Homo sapiens: one gene and its partner. The protein of the gene in region 2 interacts with the protein of the main gene of each other region in a pairwise test. Each region holds a gene or a part of one and is shown on either strand. Other genes may lie near its edges. The genes, in order: SLC10A1 and COX20.

Region 1 (3,825 bases), on a different chromosome or scaffold from region 2:
AAATAGAGGGATTTTCTTTAACAAGAGGAATAAAGCAAAGATAGTCATTATTATTACCTGTTTTATAAATTATACTATATATAGGCCCTAGTAAGCACAGCAAAACAAGAAATAGAAAAAGTATAGGGATGGGAAAAGAAGAAATGAAACTTTCTTGTTTTGCCAATGATAGGATTGTCCACAGAAGAAATCTAAGTAATTTTCCATTATAACTGGTAAGTAAGAAAATGTATGAGGTTCTAAATACATTAGCATCAGTCAGTCAATCAATTGGGTCTGATATACTAGAAACAAATATATATATATTTTAAAAGACACCATTTATGATATTCACAAAACTAGAAAATACTTATACATCTAAAGGACATGTAAGATCTTTATGAAAGAAATTACAAACCTTTATAGAAAGGTATTAAAAAAGGCCTAAGTAAAAGAAAAGCTATATCATATTTATAGATGGGAAGATTCAATATTATAAAGATAGTCTCTCAATTTATATATAAATGTAATGCACATTTAATAAAACTTCCAGACTTATAATTTTTTTTGTAGACTTGAAAGGTGATACTGAAACTCAAGTGAAAGAGTAAAAGGCTAAGAATAGCTAACATGATTTTTTTTTTTTTTGAGACAGAGTCTCGCTCTGTCACCCAGGTTGGAGTGCAGTGGTGTGATCTTGGCTCACTGCAAGCTCTGCCTCCCGGGTTCACGCCATTCTCCTGCCTCAGCCTCTCAAGTAGCTGGGACTACAGGCGCCCGCCACCACGCCCAGCTAATTTTTTGTATTTTTAGGAGAGACGGGGTTTCACCGTGTTAGCCAGGATGGTTTCGATCTCCTGACCTCGTGATCGGCCAGCCTTGACCTCCCAAAGTGCTGGGATTACAGGCGTGAGCCACTGTGCCCGGCCCATGATTTTCAAGAACAAAGTAGGGGGACTTAACTTTCAGATAACAAAACTTATAAAATTGTAATTAAGAAAGTGTGGAACTGGTACAAGGGTAGCCACATAGACCCGTAGAAGAGAAGAGAGATCCAGACACAAGCCCTGCATTTATGAGAGAGATGTCATTACAAATACCTGGAGAAAAATTCACTCAACGTGGCTTGGAATCTTCTATTTGTATGGAAAAGATAAAATTAGTTCATGCCATACATAAAAATAAGTTCTACATTGATTGGAGCTCTCCATGTGAAAATCAAACATTTAAAACTTTTCAAAGAAAATACAGGGTAATATCTTTGTAACTTTGTAGACAGTAAATTTTTTTTTTTTTTTTGAGACAGGGTGTTGCTCTGTCGCCCAGGCTGGAGTGCAGTGGCATGATTTTGGCTCACTGCAACCTCTGCCTCCTGGGTTCAAGTGATTCTCATGCCTCAGCCTCCTGAGTAGCTGGGATTACAGGTGCACATCACCATGCCCAGCTAATTTTTTTGTATTTTTTAGTAGAGACGGGGTTTTGCCATGTTGGACAGGCTTGTAGATAGTAAAAGATTTCTTAAAGAAACCCCTAAAAAACATAAACCACAAAGGAAAAATATTGGCAAATTTGACTAAATTAACATAAGCAATCTATCAGACATTATTATCAAAGTGTAAAGACCAGCTCCAAACTGTGAATAGACTGTTGCAACATATATAAAACAATAACTTTAGAAATTAATTTTCAAAACCCACCCAAACCACAATCCCATAGAAAAACAGGCAAAGGACCCAATGTTTCCAGAAGAGGACACATGAATGGCCAACGCACACGTGGAAATGTGGTAGGCCTCCCATGAAATCAAATTTAAAACTACTGCGATCTGCTTCACTGTTTTCATTTGGAAAAAATTAAAAAGTCTGACAATTCCAAATATAGATGAAGGCACAGAGAAACAGGGATCTTCAGACACTGCTAGGGAACGTGTGAAGTGAACAATGACCTTGGAGACCTCTTAAAGATGTGTGACTCCCACGACCCAGCAGTCCTGCTTCAATTGCATATGCCCTCATGTGGGCAGAGGGACACACACAAGTCTGTTCACAGAAGCGAGACGTAAAATCCACATGAATCTGACAACAGGAGAATGGATAAATGCAAGCAAACTGCACAGCAGTTCAGATACATGAGGTAGCTATTTTCTTTACATGCCTATTTCTCAAAAAAAAAAAAAAAAAGCAAGCTGTTAGGTGATGTGGACAGTATAATACTGTTCGTACAAAATTAAAAGACGTAAATCCCGCAGTCTATCTTGTTTATGAATATATACGTATATAATAGTTGAAAAGGGTCGGTGGAAATGCTGAACACCAAATTCCCAGGGATGCTCCCTTTGGCAAGTGGTGGAGGGTAATGAGATTGGGAATAGGAATACAGGGGGTTTCAATGCTACTGTTGATCTTCTCTTAGGGAAAAGCCAAACACAACTTGTGTGTTTGTTCTGGTGACCTAGAGCAGAGGAATCATGCTTACTTTGGCTTGTGTGTCAGGAGTTTTGGAGTTTGGACTTGGTGTGCCTTGTCAGCTTGGGTATGCAGGAGCCATGTTCCCTGATCCCCAGGTACTTCCTCCACTTGCACAGGTCCTGGGGTCAGGTCAGGGACATCCATCTCCTAGCCTGCTGGCATCCGTGACTGTTGTGATCCTTGGTTTACCCCAAGGGACAGGGACGGGCAAGGACTTTTTCAGACTCTAGATTCCTGAGATTGTAGGCCTGGTTGCCTTTCAGGGGGAAAGGGGCACATTTGTTTTTTTTATTTTTCCCTCCTGCTTAAGTTCCAAGAGCACAGCATAGACCTTGCTTTTGGACATCTGTGTACCCCATTTAAGGGACTCGTTCGAGTGTCCGTCAATGCACAGATTGGAGGCAGAAGCTGAGGGAGCTGTGAGGGGCCTCAACACAGTCTCTATGAAGTGGAAAACTTCTGGGACCCCAGTGGCTTCCATCTTGTCCTGGTTGAGCTTCCTACATCATGGCTGGGAGACCTGTGGAAGTGCTTGGGTTGTGTCCAAGCCCATTGTCCCCATGGCCATTGGCTCTGGGCTCTGCTGTGAGTCCGATGGTGGCAGGGGGAGCAGATGAACTTGGGGCAGCAAGGATGGTCAAAAGAGGCCAGTTCCTGCTGGCATAGCACTCTCTTCTCTGTGCCTGACAAGCCATACTCACTTCAACTGTGAGGGCGTTTTCTCTTGCCTGTTTGTCACCTACATTTTTTGAAACTTGTCTAGTGGCCTTCCTTGAGGAGGGAGCTGCCGTCCCTGGCTGCATTGAGGGGTCTGCTTGGTGGCCTGGCCTCCTGGGATGGCAGGCTGTCCCCAGACTGACTCCACCTATGAGGCAGAGTGAGTGGAGGGAGACACAGTTTCCCACAAACTCTGGGAAACCTCTGGCAAGTCTCTGACCTCAGCCTCTTCATGTGTAAAATGGGATCTGTGTCTTACAATTCCTTCCAGTTCTAAATGGGATGTAGAGTATTGTGCTTATCTCAAACTGGGGCCTTTGGGCTACAGCTGGCCCTTTGACATGTATTGTTTGGTTTGCACATTTAAAAAAATGGAATGAGTTGCTGATTTCACATAAAATGGATATTTTACCTTCTTTTGAAAAGTGGGAAGCTCTGGCTCCCACACAATACTTGCTGCTGAGACACGGGTGTCTGCCCATGCCTTTGAGGCTGTCTGGCCATTTTGTTTGTGGAAATGCTGACCTGGAAGATATTTCAGTAAAAGCACAGGTTCCGGAGCCACCCAGACCTGGAGCCAATGTATTGACCTCTCTAAGATTCAGTTTCCTTACCTCTAAATGCTACTTGTTACATGCTGTCCCCCAGGGTGCTGTAGGAG
Region 2 (3,775 bases):
CTGAAGCTTGGGAGAGATTAGGGTTTGATTTAGAAATCTGGAGTCATCATATAATGGCATTTAATTGAAAGCCTTGGGATACCTAGGAAGAGACTAGATTCCAAAGGAGTTAAGAGTGGCACTTCAGAATCAGGTCTGTAGAGGAGGGAACAGCAACAAAAATGTCAATGAAATAGAAAACCAGGAGACGTATTTGAAGCCAAGTAAAAGTAAAAAAGTTTCAAAAACAAATGATAATTTGTGCCACATATGCTGAGATGCGGATTTAGACTGCAGTGGATGTCTTTTAGAGGTCTTGACTGGTGTCAAGTGAAGTTCAGTGGATAGATGCCTCACTCAAGTGAGTTAAAGGGAGAATGGGAGGTTTTAAGTAGAAAAGCACACCTACACTCAGAAGTTTTGCCCCAAAAGGATGGTGGTTTAGGTGGCTGATGAGAGGAGAGGGGTGTATAGAGGATTTTTGGGTTTTTTTTTTGAGATGGAGTCTTCTTGCTCTGTTGCCCAGGCTGGAGTGCAGTGGTGCCATCTTGGCTCACTGCAACCTCCGCCTCCTGGGCTCAAGCGATTCTGCCTCAGCCTCCCGAGTAGCTGGGATTACAGGCATGTGCTACCATTCCTGGCTAATTTTTGTACTTTTAGTAGAGACAGGGTTTTGCCATGTTGGCCAGGCTGGTCTCGAACTTCCGACCTCAAGTGATCCACCCACTTTGGCCTCCCAAAGTGCTGGGATGACGGGTGAGCCACTGCACCTGGCCAAGAGGGCTGATAGTAAATTATTGCAAGTGAAAAAACTAACGATGCAAATGAAAGGGGTAGCTATAGAAGCCAAGCCCTTGAGTATGCAAGAGGGGAATCAAGTGCCCAAGTGGGAAGACTAGCATTAGATAGGAATAGGGCCAATTCATCCTTTGCAACCAGAGGAAAGAAATACGGGCACTGAAGCAGATTTAGTGGTGGAAAATCAACTGTCTCTAATTTGATCAGATCTATTTCTATACATTATTGACATTCTGGCTTGGAAATCTCTTGAGCTTTCCTTAGATTGATCAGGGTGAGCTGGTAAAGCTGCTTTTCTAAATCTAAGCTTAAAAAATGTCTGACATTTCCTTAATTTATTTTTAAGGGTTCCCGTTTGTTAGTGGCAAAGAGTTAAATCTTAAGTATGCAGGCTACTTAAGGAATAGAAGAGAAATGTTAAAGGCATGTATATTATGAACAGAATATTTCCGTATATAAATAGAATACTTCAAAGGGAGTTATGCCCGGGATCCTTTATTCATCTCCACTTCTGAGCATTTTACAGTTCAGTGTACTTAACTGTAAAGGTATACAGGCTCAAGTCGTTGCATATTCTTCCTGTTTTGATAGAAATTGCAGGGATTTATGTACTGAATCTTATTACTCCTTAGATATGTGACAACTGGAAAGCTCCCCACCAAACCCTCCAGCCTTGGTTACTTCTTAATGATGTGGTTTGGCACAATGAAAATGTCATAGGCTTTGTGGTGAAACTGACTTCTGCCTCCACTCCTGCCAACACTTATTATTAGCCTCTTAAGTCCCCGAGCCTGTTTCAGAGGTAATCTCACACAAAGGCTAGAGAATTAAAAAACATGTAGAGAGCCTGGCACTAATACCTACCTCCCCCACCAGCAGCTCTTAATTATGAGATCAACCACTATTATTTTAGACCAGAGTTTTGTTGGGGATTGGGTTTGTTTCAGAAGGCACTATTTTAAATAAGATGTGTAGCTTCTATTTAGATATTTGCCTTTAAAGTCAGCTGAGCTATTTTCCTATTGTTTGCAAATTTACTTTTATTTAAAAAAATAAAATTTCCTAAAGCAGTGTTTCCCCAATATGACAGTCATCAGAAAAAACCACCTAGAGTTTTCTAAACATAGATTCCAGTGATTGTAAATCAGAATCTGAGAGTGGGACTAGAAAATACTTAATTCTATCCTGTGGTACAAGCTGGTCTCACACTTGCATCTTTGCACCTAAGACTAGATCAAACTGGTACTAATCCTCTGGCCCCAGCATCCCATCCTTGGGGAAATAGTCTAGTTTAGAGGTAGTCCTGGACTGGAGCGCTAAGTCCAGCATTCCTCACCTGCATAACACTACCCACATGATCATATGTCCCCTGGGCTCTCAAGCTGATAGGAAAAAGTCGTCTTGCTAAATGAAATCCCCCAACCTCTTGGTAATGTGAAGAACTGTACTGCAAAGCTTTGAAGCAATCCTATGTTAGGCATGCGGGTGGGAACGGGGCCAGACAGAGGGAAAAAATGGAATAGAATGATCCGAGAGTAAATAATTCTTGCTTTATTATGAACCAAGTCACATTTTGTCTCTTCCAACAGATGCTTGAGCCAAAAAAGCAAACATAGGCAGAAATACAATTGAGAATATCTTCATGTTTCAACCTTTAATCTGACTTGCCTTTTACTATCCTTTCCCCATTTCTTCTAATCTCTTTTGCCTTACAATATATTACCTTCTAGGTATCACCTCATCCTATAGAATCCCTTCTAGTTTAATGTCCTGCCCCAAACAATACTAACCCATTGAAGATAACTATGAAACCTTTAAATGGACAGTGGTTCCTTTTAAAAGCAGCCTTACTGAAAATTTTATATACACTTAAATCAAGTAACAGTTACCGTGAGTTTTCTAAACTTTTGTGTTAACAGAAATGCCAGTTCAGCAGTGTGACTGTTACTTTTAAATGTCTGTCTTGCCGCCCTAGAGTGACAGACATCCCAGTTAAACATATTAGGAATAAGAAATACATAAATCCAATGAAGACTGTAGAAAAAGAATTTTAGCACTTGAAGGAACTTCAGTCATTTAACCCAACCCATTCATGTTATAGATTGAGACCATAGAAATAAAAGTAGCCTATAGGATACAAAAGTTAGCGGCAGATCTGAGATAAAAATCCAGCTCTTTGGATCCCCGCGTTTTTCACCACACTTAGCTGTCGTTCCCATGTATTACGAACAAAGAATCAAATATAATCAAGTGCAGCCTCACTTCACAGGCAAGAAAACAGACTAGAGTTTAATATATTGCCCATGTTTATCTTAAGGTGAAACATTTACTCTTACAACCACAGTTGATGTTAACCTAGTTAATAAAATATGAAAGGTAATTACTAGGGGAATTTTAAACGGCACTACATAAGCAAACATGACTCAAATTACTTTTTCCATTTCTGCTTCCCAAATTATTGGAGTTACTGAAGCAAGCTATGCTGCTTTCAATTCCAATGATAGGCATATTCCCAAATAAACTCATTTAAAGAGCTCATAAAATGAATTATCCTATTTCCAAGTCAGTTGATTAGCAAATTAAGATACAGCTCCAAGTTACCCTACTGCTTAAGGGTTTTCCGGTCCAATTTGTAAGGTTTTCGGATTTAAAGATTCAGACTGCATACCAAAGGTGGACAAAGACAACGCAAGCTGATTTAGGTTGTCACGTGGCACATACTCTAGTTTAAACCCTCAACTACAAGAAAAGAAATGGTGTATTGTCATTTTTGCCAAAGCACCCCAAAATGAAATACTTTCTTACTCAATCTAGGTTCTTTTTTTTCATTCTAGTCCCTTAAGCTCCTAGGATTTTTAGATGTTGAAAATACTCCCTGCGCCCGGCATTCAATATTGTATGGTTCATTAGGATCTGTTGTGGCTGGCTTTGGACATTTTTTGTTCACTAGTGAGTATCTGTATTTTTTATTTCTCTATGTACTAAAAAAAGCATTTCT

What was found.
Region 1: the proteins of COX20 (region 2) and SLC10A1 interact in binary tests that used the Homo sapiens proteins (3 or more experiments, as listed by UniProt).

Annotation. Positions count from the first base shown.
Region 1 is NC_000014.9:69,790,692-69,794,516, forward strand, and holds part of SLC10A1 (hepatic sodium/bile acid cotransporter), read right to left. Parts: intron 1-3,825. UniProt on the Homo sapiens protein: As a major transporter of conjugated bile salts from plasma into the hepatocyte, it plays a key role in the enterohepatic circulation of bile salts necessary for the solubilization and absorption of dietary fat and fat-soluble vitamins.
Region 2 is NC_000001.11:244,838,333-244,842,107, forward strand, and holds part of COX20 (cytochrome c oxidase assembly protein COX20, mitochondrial), read left to right. Parts: intron 1-3,611; coding exon 3,612-3,726; intron 3,727-3,775. UniProt on the Homo sapiens protein: Essential for the assembly of the mitochondrial respiratory chain complex IV (CIV), also known as cytochrome c oxidase.